4 linked regions of the Homo sapiens genome follow. The protein of the gene in region 1 purifies or fractionates together with the protein of each later gene. This does not show direct contact. Each region holds a gene or a part of one and is shown in the gene's direction. Other genes may lie near its edges.

What was found.
Region 2: the proteins of TMEM53 (region 1) and CCNB2 purify together in Homo sapiens (affinity purification with mass spectrometry; one large-scale study listed by BioGRID and IntAct). This does not show direct contact.
Region 3: the proteins of TMEM53 (region 1) and RP2 purify together in Homo sapiens (affinity purification with mass spectrometry; one large-scale study listed by BioGRID and IntAct). This does not show direct contact.
Region 4: the proteins of TMEM53 (region 1) and DHX32 purify together in Homo sapiens (affinity purification with mass spectrometry; one large-scale study listed by BioGRID and IntAct). This does not show direct contact.

The regions. Positions count from the first base shown.
Region 1 is NC_000001.11:44,671,666-44,676,012, reverse strand, and holds the start of TMEM53 (transmembrane protein 53), read left to right. Parts: upstream 1-1,531; 5' UTR 1,532-1,621; coding exon 1,622-1,682; intron 1,683-4,347. UniProt on the Homo sapiens protein: Ensures normal bone formation, through the negative regulation of bone morphogenetic protein (BMP) signaling in osteoblast lineage cells by blocking cytoplasm-nucleus translocation of phosphorylated SMAD1/5/9 proteins.
Region 2 is NC_000015.10:59,115,135-59,118,704, forward strand, and holds part of CCNB2 (G2/mitotic-specific cyclin-B2), read left to right. Parts: intron 1-1,555; coding exon 1,556-1,792; intron 1,793-2,093; coding exon 2,094-2,234; intron 2,235-3,570. UniProt on the Homo sapiens protein: Essential for the control of the cell cycle at the G2/M (mitosis) transition.
Region 3 is NC_000023.11:46,878,478-46,882,047, forward strand, and holds part of RP2 (protein XRP2), read left to right. Parts: intron 1-1,208; coding exon 1,209-1,292; 3' UTR 1,293-3,570. UniProt on the Homo sapiens protein: Acts as a GTPase-activating protein (GAP) involved in trafficking between the Golgi and the ciliary membrane.
Region 4 is NC_000010.11:125,850,247-125,853,816, reverse strand, and holds part of DHX32 (putative pre-mRNA-splicing factor ATP-dependent RNA helicase DHX32), read left to right. Parts: intron 1-121; exon of another isoform or gene 122-573; coding exon of another isoform or gene 574-692; intron 693-1,174; coding exon 1,175-1,274; intron 1,275-1,365; coding exon 1,366-1,524; coding exon of another isoform or gene 1,525-1,671; intron 1,672-3,570. Other genes in the region: BCCIP (BRCA2 and CDKN1A-interacting protein), read right to left, coding at 574-692.

The DNA.
Region 1 (4,347 bases):
CCTCCTTCTCCCAATCCTCAATCCAGTTCCTGCACTAATGTTTCTTTTTTTTTGAGACAGAGTCGCGCTCTGTCACCCAGGCTGGAGTGCAGTGGAGCAATCTCGGCTCACTGCCACCTCTACCTCCCAGGTTCAAGCCATTCTCCTGCCTCAGCCTCCCAAGTAGCTGGGATTACAGGTGTGCACCACCATGCCCGGCTAATTTTTGTATTTTTAGTAGAGATGGGGTTTCGCCATGTTGGCCAGGCTGGTCTCGAACTCCTGACCTGAAGTGATACGCCCGCCTCAGCCTCCCAAAGTGCTGGGATTACAGGGGTGAGACACCACACTGGGCTCTTTGTTTTGTTTTTTGAGACAGGGTCTCACTCTGTCACCCAGGCTGGAGTGCAGTGGCACAATCATGGCTTACTGCAGCTTTGACCTCCTGACTCAAGTGATCCTCCCACCTCAGCTTTCCAAGTAGCTGGGACTTCAGGCATGCGCTACCATGCCTGGCTAATTTTTAAAATTTTAATTTTGTAGAGATGAAGGTCTCACTATGTTGCCCAGGCTGGTCTTGAACTCCTTCAAGCCATTCTCCCGTCTTGGCCTTCCAAAGTGCTGGGATTACGAGTTTGAGCCACCGCGCCTGGCATGCAAAGAGTCTTTCCCCCTCCCTATCTCTAAAAGTCTTTCAAGGCCCAGCTCAAGAGCCAACCCCACTGCCATAAATGCCCCTTCTCTGATTCTGAGCTCCTCAAATCCTTACTCTTCTGTAGTATTTATCTCACACGCAGAATCAGAGTTGCTTCATGCATGGTTTCTCTCCCTCTCCCGTTAAGACATGGGAGAGGGAGGGCCAAAAGCTTGATTCTCACTAGGGCCTAAGGAACCTTATTTAGCCCACCCAGTCTCTGGCACATAGTATGTAAATATGCTGGCACATAGTATGTAAATATAGATAAATGCAAGAAAGTTGCACTCCCAGCTCCTCGGTGGGCCCTATCAACAGGGCATTCTCTAAAGTCATCAACTGAAGACTGCTTCCCATCCACCCATCCATCCATCCATCCATCCATCCATCCAGAATATGCCTCAACCCCACTGGGTGGAGGTTGGGTCGGCACGCGCCCCCTAGGCCGTTTTGTACGGTTTTATACCTCCAGCCCTCGCAGTTGCGGCTGGTAGAGGATGGCAGAGGTAGGTAGACGATGCAAGTCAAAGGGCACACTCTTCCGCCGCGTAGGATAGGACTCTGTTCGGACGAGTGACCCTGCCCATTCCCAGAATACAGCAACTCTTCAGCCGCCTCTCACCTACATGAGAGGGTGGGGACTCTTCCTGACCGGCGCCCCGGCTGACCAATACCTGATCCAGATCAAGCGAATTAGCCAATGGCTGCGGGTCAGTAATAGGGGCGGGGCATGGTTGCTAGGGCCGAGCTAGTGGGGTGAGGCGAGAGGCTCTGGAAGAGACTCGGTGGTTGCTAAGGCGGGAGGTCACAGAGCGCGGCGCAGGGATTGGGCCGTGTTGGGGGAGGTGTGTGGTGATTGGGCGGCGCCCAGGAGGCGCCCGGGTGAGGCACGGGTGCGCAAGCGGGAGTTCCGGCTGGAGACCCGTGCTCTGGGCCGGCGCCTTCACCATGGCCTCGGCAGAGCTGGACTACACCATCGAGATCCCGGATCAGCCCTGCTGGAGCCAGAGTATGGAATGAGGGTTGGGTCCAGGCGCGGGGAGGTGACCTCATGAACCTGTGGGTTGCGAGCGCAGCTGTAGCCCCGCCCCTCATGCGGCCCCGCCCTCCCTCGGGCCGCCCCCTCATAGGGTCTGGCAGGTCCTAGACTTAGAGAGGCTCAGAGAGCCCCGCCCCTCGTAAGTCCCGCCCCAGAGTGTTCCTCCCTGGCGAGCCCCGCCTCTGCCCGAGTCAGCTGCTCGCTTGGGACCTCTTTTTCTGTCTTTCCTGTCCGGGGTGCTCAGGTCCATGCCCTTTAATCACTTCTCATAGCTGAAGGCTGCCGAAAGCTGGATCCCTCCTGATTCCTTTGTTTGGGATTGGGCTTCCCACATCTAGCCTATCACTTATTATTTTCCCGAAGGCGTGGAGGGGGAGGCTCGCGGGGTCACCGATCCTCGCAGAAGCCCGGGACTCAGAACCCTTAGCCGTCCCTCTCCACTCTTCTCGGCAGTGGTTAACAGTGCAGTCTCTGCCGTCGGGTAGAACTCGACTGAAATCCTGACTCCTTCCTTTAGGAGCTGGATTACCTTTGGTAAGCTACCTTCTCTGAACTTCAGTTTCCTCCTCTGCAAAACCGGGATAAGGATAGTAACCTTCCTCATAGGGCTGTTGGGGCCATCTGGAGATTGTGTAAAGGGCCTGGCATGGAGTGAGTTCAGTAATTGGCATTTACGATCAGCATTGTTTCTCTCCTTACATTAAAGAAAGACATGTAGGATTCTCCACAAAATTAGGATTGACAGCAGGCCCGCATCCATGACAGTGTGAGTAGATCGGGGTCCAGAGAGTGGAAAGTTTGGTCTCTCTGGGAATTCTGGCAGAAGGGCCTTGAAGTATGATCAGCCTGAGGCCAGCGTGTCCCTCACTTGCATTAGTCCAGCATCGCCTTCACGCCTCCTGTCTCACTGCCTGCAGCCCAGCCTCTTAAACTGCTACCACAGTGATCTTTCTAATGCAAAGGTTTGATCTTATACTCTGCTCTCCATAAAACTTACCTCCTTAAGGAGAGCCTTCCCAGATCCCTCCCGTAGCATCTCATGTTCTTTGGTTGGAGTCTAGGAGAGGGCAGCCCTTAGACTCCCGCAGAACAGATGGCCCCAGACCAGCTGTTTTTCCCTAGAACTGGATCTGCTGGCTTAGCGCTTTTGGGTTTATAGATGTAAAAATACTTTGGACACGTTTTGGCGTCAGCAAGCCATGAAGTCAGTTAATATTATTTCCTTTGGAGAGTCTTCGGCTGCAAAGGGTTGGAGCTGCCTTCTGCACGGCCAGGAGGGCAGCCTCGTGGTCCTGGTTCACATTTCAGCTCCATGTCTTACAAGTTATATGTCTTTGGCAAGCTATTGAACCTCCCTGAGCCTGAGATTCCTCCACTGTGAAATGGGAAGAGTACTAGTGCCTACCTCCTCGTGGGATTGCGAGGGTTACGAGGTAGCGTTTGGATGTGTGTCCCTGGCACAGTGCAGGTGCTGCCATTGCATTGCTCCCCTGTGGTTCCCCCTCAGCCCCCCTTTCTTTTTTTTTTTTTAAGAGATGGAGTCTCCCCTGTCGCCCAGGCCGGAGTGCAGTGGCGGATCCCATGGCTCCCTTTGCTGCTCCAGGAGGCTGGGTCTTAGAATTGGAAGAAATCTCAGAGACTGTTTTGTCCTGCCTCCCTCTGTTGGCATGAGTGCATTCCATTGCTAGCAGACCCTTCCCTGGGGCGATGCTTCTGCCCAAACATTCTAGCCTGTTGGAGGCAGCTGGGATTGTTAGAAAGCACTTCCCTTTCTTGAGCCACAATAGGCCTTCCTGTAATTTCCGCTCTCAGTTCAGTATTTGCTGTGTCCTGGCTGTGGGATCGTTGTTGGCCACTCAGAAGTGACTCACACGCCCAAGGAGCTGAGGTTTTGGGGAGGGGAGTGAATTTATAAGCAGGTGGTTTCAAAATGGTGTGCTAACTGCAGGGCTAGAGCATTGTGGTGGGAACGATACAGAGCAAGGAATCTCTCTTCCTCTGTTCAAGAGGACAGCTTCGTGCCTTCACATTTCCTCCAAGGGAAACACCTCCACGGCTTTCAGTTGTTTCTCCTCCTTATTGCTGCTCCTGACTGGCTTTAATTCATTGCCCTTCCCTCTCACAGTCCATGCTCCAGAGGAGAGCTAGAGGTTGTCAAACCCCTCAGAAGGAGATCACGACGCTGTGGTCCCCTGAATCCATTTGCTTCCTATCTGCAGAGCTTCCCTCCAGGCCAACATGGCCTGATAGAGTGACAGTCTTTTGGAGCCCCAGAGATTGTCTGTCTTTTGCAATTACTGTTTAATGGTGGAGAAGTGTATAGGACATTCATATTTAGTTTCTGAAATTACTTTTTAAAAACTTTTTTTTTTGAGGTGGAGTCTAACTCTGTCGCCCAGGCTGGAGTGCAGTGGCACGATCTCAGTTCACTGCAACCTCCGCCTCCTGGCTTCAAGCAATTCTCCTGTTTCAGCCTCCCAAGTAGCTGGGACTACAGGCACCCGCCACCATGCCTGGCTAATTTTTGTAGTTTTAGTAGAGACAAGGTTTCACCATATTGGTTAGGCTGGTCTTGAACTCCTGACCTCAGGTGATCCACCCGCCTCAGCCTCCCAAAGTGCTGGGATTACAGGCG
Region 2 (3,570 bases), on another chromosome or scaffold:
CATCAGAGGAAATATACCATCAGTTGGGCTGAAAGTCCATCTGAAGCCTGTAGTGCCTTTGGATGCTGGTTTTCTGGGCCTGCTTGCACAATTTCCATAGTTTGGTGCTCTGGTGTTAAGTTTCCTCATCTGAAAAACGATGAGTTTGGCTGGAGAACCTCCACATTTCCAGCCAACTATGTCATTGAATCACTGTAGAAGAAGAAGGTGGCAGTATTTGTTTTTTTTAAAGGAGCAGGGGTTGTGTGTGGAGTGGACTGAGAATGTAGTGTAATAAAGAGTAATATAAGAAAATAAGAGGCAAACATAATCTTCAGCATATTTATGAGTGGGTAATGCACAGCCCCTGACCTGTTAGAAGAGACAGCAGATATAAATTGCCAGTGTGTTATCTACCAAACAATAGCCCTGCAGATAAGGTTTTATTTATTTAAAGTCAACATTCAGGATAGGGGTTTAGGTCAGGCACAAATTCTGTCCAAACAATGTAATAAAAATTACTTTACAATAATGACCCTGAGATACTACAAAATCCCAGGTAGCATGCATTCCTCTTTGGGCAGGAAAGCACAACAGTATTTTAGGTAGGTTTCTTTATTTTTTATTTTTTTGAGACAGGGTTTTATTCTGTTGTTGCCCACGCTGGAGTGCAGTGACACAATCTGGGCTCACTGTAGCCTCAATTTCCTGGGTTCAATCAATCCTTCTACCTCAGCTTCCCAAGTAGCTGGGACTATAGGCATATGCTACCACGCCCAGCTAAGTTTTTGATTTTTTTATAGAGATGGGGTTTTGCCATGTTGCTCAGGCTGGTCTCGAACTCCTTAGCTCAAGTGATCTGCCCACCTCGGCCTCCCAAAGTGTTGGGATTATAGGCATGAGCCACTGTGCCCATCCGTGGTAGATTTTTAATAATGAGAGTTGAAGCAAGAAAAGTACAGAGTTTGGGAGGAAAAAAAAAAAGCAATTAAGGGAAACGCTTTACCCTAGCCTGAGAGTCTGCCTGACTCCAAAGCATTAGCGAAAGATTTTCTAAGCTGAATAATGGGTATGCTTTTGGTAAGGATTAAGGAAATGAGCCATCCATTAAATTCTCACTTTTTTCTTTGGCCTCATTTCTATTCAGACCATGTTTAGTGTGTCAGGCCAGGGCTGCCACAGATACTCAAGTCAGCATGAGGTTGTGGGAAGGGTGACTAGGAGCTTGGTATTCAGGCTTGGATTCTTCCCTTCTTGGCAATTGAATGATCTTGGCATGGTGTCTGAATCTGTTCTCAGGACATCTATTTGTAATTGAGGAATAAAATATGCCTTTCCTAGAATTTTTATGAGGATTGGGTGAGATAATATGTTAGAATCTTAGCACTGTGCCTAGCACACAGTGCTCAATTACAGATAGCTGTCATGATCAGTGGTAGAACAGTCAGGTCTCCTGTGCCCTTATGAGCAAAGACAATGTGCACTTTTCCAGGACTTGGTTTCCTTTCCCCTTCTCCCACCTAAAGCTTCACTCTTCTTGTTAGGTGTGACTTTTGTTACATTAATTTTCCATTAGGTTCAGCCAGTTTCCCGGAAGAAGCTTCAATTAGTTGGGATTACTGCTCTGCTCTTGGCTTCCAAGTATGAGGAGATGTTTTCTCCAAATATTGAAGACTTTGTTTACATCACAGACAATGCTTATACCAGTTCCCAAATCCGAGAAATGGAAACTCTAATTTTGAAAGAATTGAAATTTGAGTTGGGTCGACCCTTGCCACTACACTTCTTAAGGCGAGCATCAAAAGCCGGGGAGGTAAGTGCCTCCAGCTCTGTAAGAGACTATTTTTGCTTGGTGTCTCATCCCAGAAACCTTGACCTAATTTAAGGAAAGCTTATTTATAGGACGCTTCCTTTAGGTAAGTCTTAATGCTTTCCTCATCAGTTCTTAAGAGAAAAGGCCTCATGATCTATGTTTACAACATAGTGTGGAATAGAGTAATTCTTGAGAAGGATAAGTGAGTCAAGTGAATTGGAGTTCCTAGGCCTTCACGCAGAATTTTGCAAGACAGTAATTACACTTGTGATTCTTACTATCCCTTGCTGTTCTTTCTTAGGTTGATGTTGAACAGCACACTTTAGCCAAGTATTTGATGGAGCTGACTCTCATCGACTATGATATGGTGCATTATCATCCTTCTAAGGTAGCAGCAGCTGCTTCCTGCTTGTCTCAGAAGGTTCTAGGACAAGGAAAATGGGTGAGTGGTGGATTTAAGAAGAAACTAATTAGGCTATATTTTAGTCCTTCGTAATACAAAAGGCCTTAGCATTTTTACAACACTATCCTTGAAGCAGTTGGTTTTGTTTTGTGTTTTTGAGACAGGGTCTCATTCTGTCACGTAGGCTGGAGTGTGGTGGTGCCATCACAGCCCACTGCAGCCTTGACTTCCCAGGCTCAAGTAATCCTCCTACCTCAGCCTCCCGAGTAGCAGGGACTACAGGCATGCATGACCATGCCTCGCTAATTTTTGTAAATTTTTTTGTAGAGACAGGGTTTTGCCATGTTGTCTAGGCTAGCCTTGAACTCGGCTCAAGCAGTCTGCCCACCTTGGCCTCCCAAAGTGCTAGGATTTCAGGTGTGAGCCACAGTGCCTGGCCTGAAGCAATTGTTTAAAGTCCAAAGTCCTAAAGGAAAACTACTTGGAGAGGGGCATGGGGGCTTGTGCTTGTAGTTCTAGCTACTTGGGAGGCTGAGGGAGGAGGATCATTTGAGCCCAGGCCCAGGAGTTCAAGTCTATCCTGGGGAACACAGAGAGACCCTTGTCTCTTGGGAAAGAAAGCAAGCAAGCTGCTTGGAACAGTTCACATAGAAGTGAGTTGACTATACATACTAAGGTGCATGTGTGCAGTATAGAGTTGTACAGAATGAGGAAGGCCACTAAGAACTGACATGTATGATTTCTTAGATATTACGTTAAGTGAAACAAGCAAGTTGTCAAGCACACAAGACAAAGGAAGGCCAAGGCCTGACTGATTTAGCCAGTAAGAATAGAATGAGCCACTTGTAGATTTAGAAGAGTAGCCAAGGATGGCAGCTCCTCGGGTCTTTGTTTCACATGGCAAAAAGGATAATGTGGAAACAAATGGAGCTGGATGGCTGCAATGCAAGTCACAGGTACACTGTTGTGGAGAAGCCAGTTCTAGACCACCGCTAAACAGTCTTCTAGTCTGCAGTTATACCCTGAGAGCAGTACAATAGAAAACCTCATCAGAACCTAGGGGATACGAAGCTGTCTTGGCCGGGTGCCATGCCAGTAATCCCAGCACTTTGGGAAGCCAAGGTGGACAGATCACCTGAGGTCAGGAGTTTGAGACCAGCCTGGCCAACATGGCAAAACCCCCGTCTCTACTAAAAATACAAAAATTAGCCAGGCATGGTGGCAGCTGCCTGTAATCCAGGCTACTCTGGAGGCCTAGGCATAAGAATCACTTGAACCCGGAAGACAAAAGTTGCTTTGAGCCAAGATCGTGCTACTGCACTCCAGCCTGGCGGACAGGGCGAGACTCTGTCTCCAAAAAAAATATAAAAAAGAA
Region 3 (3,570 bases), on another chromosome or scaffold:
AACATAGAGGATTACATTAGCAAATCTATAATTGACTACTTTTTGATAAATACCTGGGAGGACATTTTGGTTTTATCATCTGATTTGGCTTATGATTCCTTGAATTTACAAAAATTAAAGTACTTTGTCTTTGATCTCATTTTATCATCACAGTAGTACTAAGGGAGAGGGAAAATACCAGGTTGAATAGAAAAGGAAACTGAGAGATAAAATGGTTAGAATTTGGACTTTTAGAGCTGAATGATTTAGAGATTATCTAATCCAGCTTTCTCATTTTACAGGTGTAGTTACTGAGCCCACAGAGGTTTATTAAATTGTCAGCATCATATGCTAGTTTACGATAAAGCTAGAATAGAACCCACATCTGCTCTAATTCCTTGCTGACATTTGTAAAAGCTACTTTAGAAGGGTTCTATTGAGTATTGCTTCATTGATGTTTAGCAGATAGTTTATTTAAAAATAACAGGCTGGGTGTGGTGGCTCACACCTGTAATCCCAGCACTTTGGGAGGCTGAAGCGGGAAGACTGCTTGAGCCCAGGAGTTCAAGACCAGTCTGGGCAACATAGTGAGACTCTACAAAAAGTAAAAAAAAAAAAAAAAAAAAAAAAAAAACTAGCTAGGCATGGTGGTACACACCATTAGTACCAGCTACTTGGGGGGCTGAGGCAGGAGAATCACTTGAGTCCAGAAGTCTAGGCTGCAGTGAGCCATGATTGCACCACTGCACTCCAGCCTGGGCAACAGAGCAAGACTCTGTCTCAAAAATAAATAAAATAAAATAAAAAATAATAATATATCTTTAGCAGCTTTGAAAGGGATAATCTCAAGTTTTGCTGCTCAGACTACTGAGATTATTATTAGAAAATAGAAGAAACAAAGAGTTTTTTAAGTGACTCTTATTCAGTAGCTTCCGTAATATTGAGTGTTGTAAAAGTCCAGATGTAATAAAATACAACTCAAGTATTATGAAAGCAGAGACCTTAATTATATAAGTGCTTCCAAAAGAGCTTAATTTACATTATAGCTATTCAAAGTGTATTACATGAATTCTAAAGAAAATCTACAGATTAAATATTGTCATTATAAATGATGTACTTGAACTTCTTTTGAATAATTAGCTTGGAACTTTGTTCTGTGGAGAACATGGGCTTTGGCATTCTGAAGTACTTGGTACTGATTTTTTTTTTTAATTTTCTATTTAAAATAGATGTTTGTATCTGAAAGCAAGGAGACGGCATCTGGAGATGTAGACAGCTTCTACAACTTTGCTGATATACAGATGGGAATATGAAGTGCAATGTGGAACCAGGACTTGGTATTAAGCCTTTCCCAACTTGTGAATATAGAATTTGATAATACACTTTTGTGTATTAGCAATGGTTTTTACTAATGCTAAAACTTTTAAAGTTTATTTTTTAATAAATTGTTGAGTATTACATCATTTACTTGAGGTTCAAAAATAATTCATTTTAAATTAAGTAGTTTTAATCAGCTTAAAAGCTATTTAACCCATTTTAATAAGCTTGCAGTTTTGTTTCTCTGCATATGATATTCTTATTAGAAAACAGAAGTAGCTAAAAGTTTATTATTTTAATCCTATTTAAATGTTCTTTCAAATCTCTAATAATTTAAACTTTCCTCAGTGCTCCATGATACTTTTTTTGAGACTCCATATCATTGCTTATTTTACCTTTTTCAATTTAGAGGGATTTGTTACTAGTCGATCAATTAGAATGAACCTATGCACATTTTTATGTACACATATCCAGTTATATAATTGCTTCCTAGTTGCATTATATGGCAAATGAGATTTTGTACATGGAGTTGACATAATACTTTGTAAATTGAATTTTTTAAAGAAATAGGCATTTGATAACCAGCTTGGCAAGTAACTCTACTAACAGATGTTGGTATAGCTATTTAAAGACTACTTCGTAAGTAGTATGATTATTTGAATAAATTACACATTGTTTAGTTTTTTAATACAACTGCTATATGACTCTTCTGCTTCCTGATAAGAAAAGGTATATGCAATGCTAAAACTGTAGAAGCCCAATCACCAGCAGTTTTTAAAAAGGTGATAACTTTTATTAGCTCTTGTGGGCTATCAAGAGAATTGGAACAAAACCTTGTGACTTTTAGGTAAGAAATAGGCATGATGATAAGCTATGCAGATTATTAAAAAGCTTGATACATTTGATTTTTCATTAGATATGCCATTCATATCAAGTAATGTTCAAGTATGATAAAATTATTTTGGTTGCTTTAAAGCACTGTTTCCCAAATCTACCTGATCATAATAATTTACCAGGAAGCAGAGGAGAGCTACTTGTTTAAAAATCCACATTCTTGGACCCAATCCTCAGATGCACGGATTCAGTCTTCAGGGGAAACTCTGTTTTAAGGGGTATGTTGTAATCTAAAGTAATTGGTTCAGGAGGTGTCAATAGGTTGAACTTGTGAGAAGGCACTGAATCTGCCATCCACATCACATATAGCAGCTATTATGAAATCAGCTTTCATAGGCCTATTTTTAAAAGGAATCTGAAATTTAATTCTATTTTGATAAAACTAAGACTGAAAATAACCACTTGTAAACATTCCTATGATTGTTACTAAAATGTATTTTCATGTTTAAAATGTTTTTGGATATTTTTGGGTTAATAACTACTACATTGAATTGCATGTTAAGGTGCAGAAATAATACATTAAAAGATTTTCACTTTAAATTAATTAGTAATATTGAGCGCTCACCCTGTGCGTGGCCTTGTGCTAACCATTAGCACTGCATCATTTCAATTCTTTTATAAGGGCATTCAATACTACAAAATCAACATGATTTCATAAGGTGCAAATAAAAGTTGGTGACAGATTTAATATAATTTTGATCACAATTTACAAATGATCTTTGCAAATAGTGGTCAGACGGCATTAGTTTTTCCCTTAGTTAAGCTAAATTAAAGGGACTCCATCCTGTTATGATTATATTATTATTATTATTATTATTATTTTTGAGGTGGAGTTTCACTCTTGTTGCCCAAGCTGGAGTGCAATGGCGCGATCTCGGCTCACCACAACATCCGCCTCCTGGGTTCAAGCGATTCTCCTGCCTCAGCCTCCTGAGTAGCTGGGAATACAGGCATGCGCCACTACACCTGGCTAATTTTTGTATTTTTAGTTGAGATGGGGTTTTTCCACGTTGGTCAGGCTGGTCTCGAACTCCTGACCTCAGGTGATCCGTCCACCTCAGCCTCCCAAAGAGCTGGGATTACAGGTGTGAGCTACCGCGCCTGGCCATGATGATATTATTAAACACCATTATTCACATTTCAAATAATAACAATACTTTTTGTTTTTCAAAAATAAAATGCAATGTTATATAAAGCTATAAACTAAGTTCTTTATGATATTTGAGCAACAACTCAGGAATATAACATATAAGGGAGATGTTAATTTAAAAATTTCCACTACACTTATTATCTATTAACCAAAGCTTAAAATTTTGTATTCTTCTGTTAGATAAGACCTTTTACCCATTTAATTTGTCTTTAAGGACAGTCATTTGGCTT
Region 4 (3,570 bases), on another chromosome or scaffold:
AATTATTGCAGCCAGTAACAAAAGTCTTGATTCCATTAGCATGTTGGAGGTTTGGAAATGAATTAAATTGATTGAGCTGCCAAAGGAGAAAGTTTTGAGGGAAGACTCAACTACTAGAGCATAAAGGTGATAGTCATCTTTAATAGTATTTTTTCTTTAGCTAAGGTACTAGCAAAGCAAATTGTTTGACTCTTAAACTGATCTCTTCTTATGAACAATTTACTGGATTTTTTTGATAGCCCCTTTATCAGAGTAATTAGTATCTTACCCCAGAGAACTTACTAGAAACTTGTTTCAAGTATACTGACTTTAATTTTAGCAAATTTTGGCTTATAATTGACGATAAAATTTTCATCCTAATCATTACAAAATATTCTTTATTACTTTTAAATTAAAAATTAGAAAAAATGAAAACAAGGTATCTCAAACTCTGAAAGACACTGAGACTTCAGAAAATCCTAACATTTGAGATCTCAAACGAAACTAACAAATATTGACTAATTTACCATTACTAGGTGCCGAGATGTTTTATCCCTCCAGGAGACTATGAGCCTCCTAAATATCCCTGACTTATTATGACAGAGCAATTCCAACAGTCATGAAGGTTCCCTGGAAATCACTTAGAGTTGATCTTGATTGAATTAGTCCAGCCTTCAGAGAAACCAGGGCTGTCACTTGCCCCCGTGAACCACCTGTAAGGAAAATCATTGTTAGTGCCATACGCAGTTTCTGTATTAGCTGTTATGATTGGAACTCTCAGTATGTGTTGTAAAGGTGAGACCACCAAGATCCTGGTTGATTTGAACAAAACTATAAAGAAACATGGCACTATCAGGTGAGAACCCTTTCTCTGTGTGACATATGAGCATATGTTATCATTCACCAGTACAGTGCTTTGAGAAGTGACAGTGCTAGTATTTCAGCAGATGACACAAAGGTCTCATAGTTATTGAAGCCACAATGAAAGCAGACAACCTTTAAATCCATTTATCAAAGCACTTGCAGTTTCCATCTCAAGGCAAGTGAAACAATAATAAATATCGTGCAAAGAAAATGAGTCTGTGGCAGTGCATTTCATGGAGTAAAGTACTGCGCAGCATATTCTCTTCAGGATCAGTGAGCCTACTGAATCATGACTTATCTGACGCTAATGATGCTGTCTTTCCATTTAAAGGTGTACAACCCGAGAATAAGAGCAAACTCGCTCGTCATGCAGCCCATCAGCCAGAGCCAGGCAGAGATACGCAAGCAGATTCTTGGCTCATCTTCTTCAGGTAGTGCTGTGGACACAAATACTAAATGTTGTCAATTCTTGTATGCAGGCAACCCAGAAATATTAAAGCCATTTTTCTTGGTGTCTTTTAGGAAAATTTTTCTGCCTGTACACTGAAGAATTTGCCTCCAAAGACATGACGCCACTGAAGCCAGCAGAAATGCAGGAAGCCAACCTAACAAGCATGGTGCTTTTTATGAAGAGGATAGACATTGCGGGCCTAGGCCACTGTGACTTCATGAACAGACCAGGTAGCCTTATGCTCCCATGTCAGCCAGGCATTAGGCTGAGATTCACCTTCTCCTGCCCATTCTCTGTCCTGAGTTCACATGATGCGCAGCAATGCACACAAGCATGGAGGGGGCGTTGGTTTGGACTGAAGCATTTTCCTGCTAGAGGTAAACATTCTCTGAAGGTAATTTTTAAAACCCCACAAACCTCTAGGAAATAACTGTTCTGACACGAGAAATGTGTCTGCTGTTGGACACTGCAGCACAGGGGAACTGGGCTTAAGGAGCTGGGTAATGTGGAGTATGGAAGCGTAAGGGTGAATCAGCAGAAAGAAGAATTCTCAGCAGCTTGAATTGTCCTTTTTTCTTTTCTTTTTTTTTTTTTTTTTTTTTGAGACAGGGTCTTGCTCTGTTGCTCAAACTGGAGTACAGTGGCGTGATCATAGCTCACTGCAACCTCCACCTCACAGGCTCAAGTGATCCTCCCACCACAGCTTCCCAAATAGCTGGGACCACAGGTGCAAGCCACCACACTTATTAATGTAGATTTCCTTTGTAGATGTAGATTTCTTTTACAAAGTGACAGCTTTTCAGAGCTAGTCCTATGTCTGCAGTTTCTCAGAATAACCAGCTCAAAATATGCCAGAGAAGTATATTTTGGGGTGGCATATTCTAGTCTCCTCCAGTCATATTTTGGGGTGGTGTGTCCTGAGCCCCAACAAGATAGGTTTCATTTTTGAAAATTGCTCTTCCAGTCCCACTGTTCATCTCATAAGCCCAGGAATCACCACCTGTTGATTTCCTAGGCATCTTCTTGCTCAGGGTAGTAGATGTTTGGTGGACTAGAAATGCAGGGAGAAGAAAAGGAAGGCTTGGTGATGTCAAGGATTTTTAAAAGCAAACTATCTCACTGTGTTCTCTCAATAGTCACCCTCTGTGCTGCTCATTCCATGAGGCTTAAAGCTGATAACTGGGGGACAAAAGGGTTAGGGTAACAATTTATTTTTGTCTCCTGACAATACACACATAACTTTTCTGCTGTGCTTGGGGAAAATATAACTGTGGATTAATTCTGACTCATTGTTTTGGAAGCAAAAAAAGAAAAAGATGCTCGCAGCTGCTGCATTTAATTCAACTTATAATTGAAATATGCAAATCCAGCAAACTAGTTACCCTTTTCAGGATGCATGAACCATGTGAAAATGAATTTGGCATAACTAGGCTACAGGCTGTTAATTGAATTCCCCTGATCTGGACCTCTTTTTAAAAAATCAGTTGTATTTTTCTTCCTTGGCTGCCTGACAATTGACCTCCATCCTGAATGACACAGTCACTGTCCATTGGGGTAGGAGGCCTCAGGACCAGCTGACCACTTCAGTGGAAACAGATGGCCTGAGACTGCCGCTACCCTGGGAAGGCAGTGGTACCTAGATAGAAATTTGGAGAAAAACTAGCCAAAAGGTACCAGACTACACCAGAGGTCATCTTTGTATTCAGAGGCAGAACTCATTTTGGTAGTAGCCAGATGACTGGCTTTGGTATGATCTATGATTCTTTGGATTATGAAAAGAAAAGTGAACCCAAACACAAACAGGCATGGCACGTTAGATAAGGCAACGCCTCATGAAAACAGGGGAAAATGCAGGAAGAAAATAAAGTTGCTGGGCACAGTGGCTCACGCCTCTAATCCCAGCATTTTGGGAGGCCGAGGTGGGTGGATCACCTCAGGTCAGGAGTTCAAGACCAGCCTGACCAACGTGGTGAAATCTCGTCTCTACTAAAAACAAAATTAGCCGGGCATGGTAGTGCATGCCTGTAATCCCAGCTACTTGGGAGGCTGAGGCAGGAGAATCACTTGAACTCAGGAGGTGGAGGTTGCGGTGAACCAAGATTGCGCCATTGCACTGCAGCCTGGGCAACAAGAGCAAAACTCTGTCTCAAAAAAAAAAAAAAAAAAAAGAAAGAAAGAAAAGAAAGTCAAAGGCTGCAGAGGCCAGGGATGGCTCTGGTGAAAAGAGGAATTAAAGATTCTGCAGGGCTGGGCATGGTGGCTCACACCTGTAATCC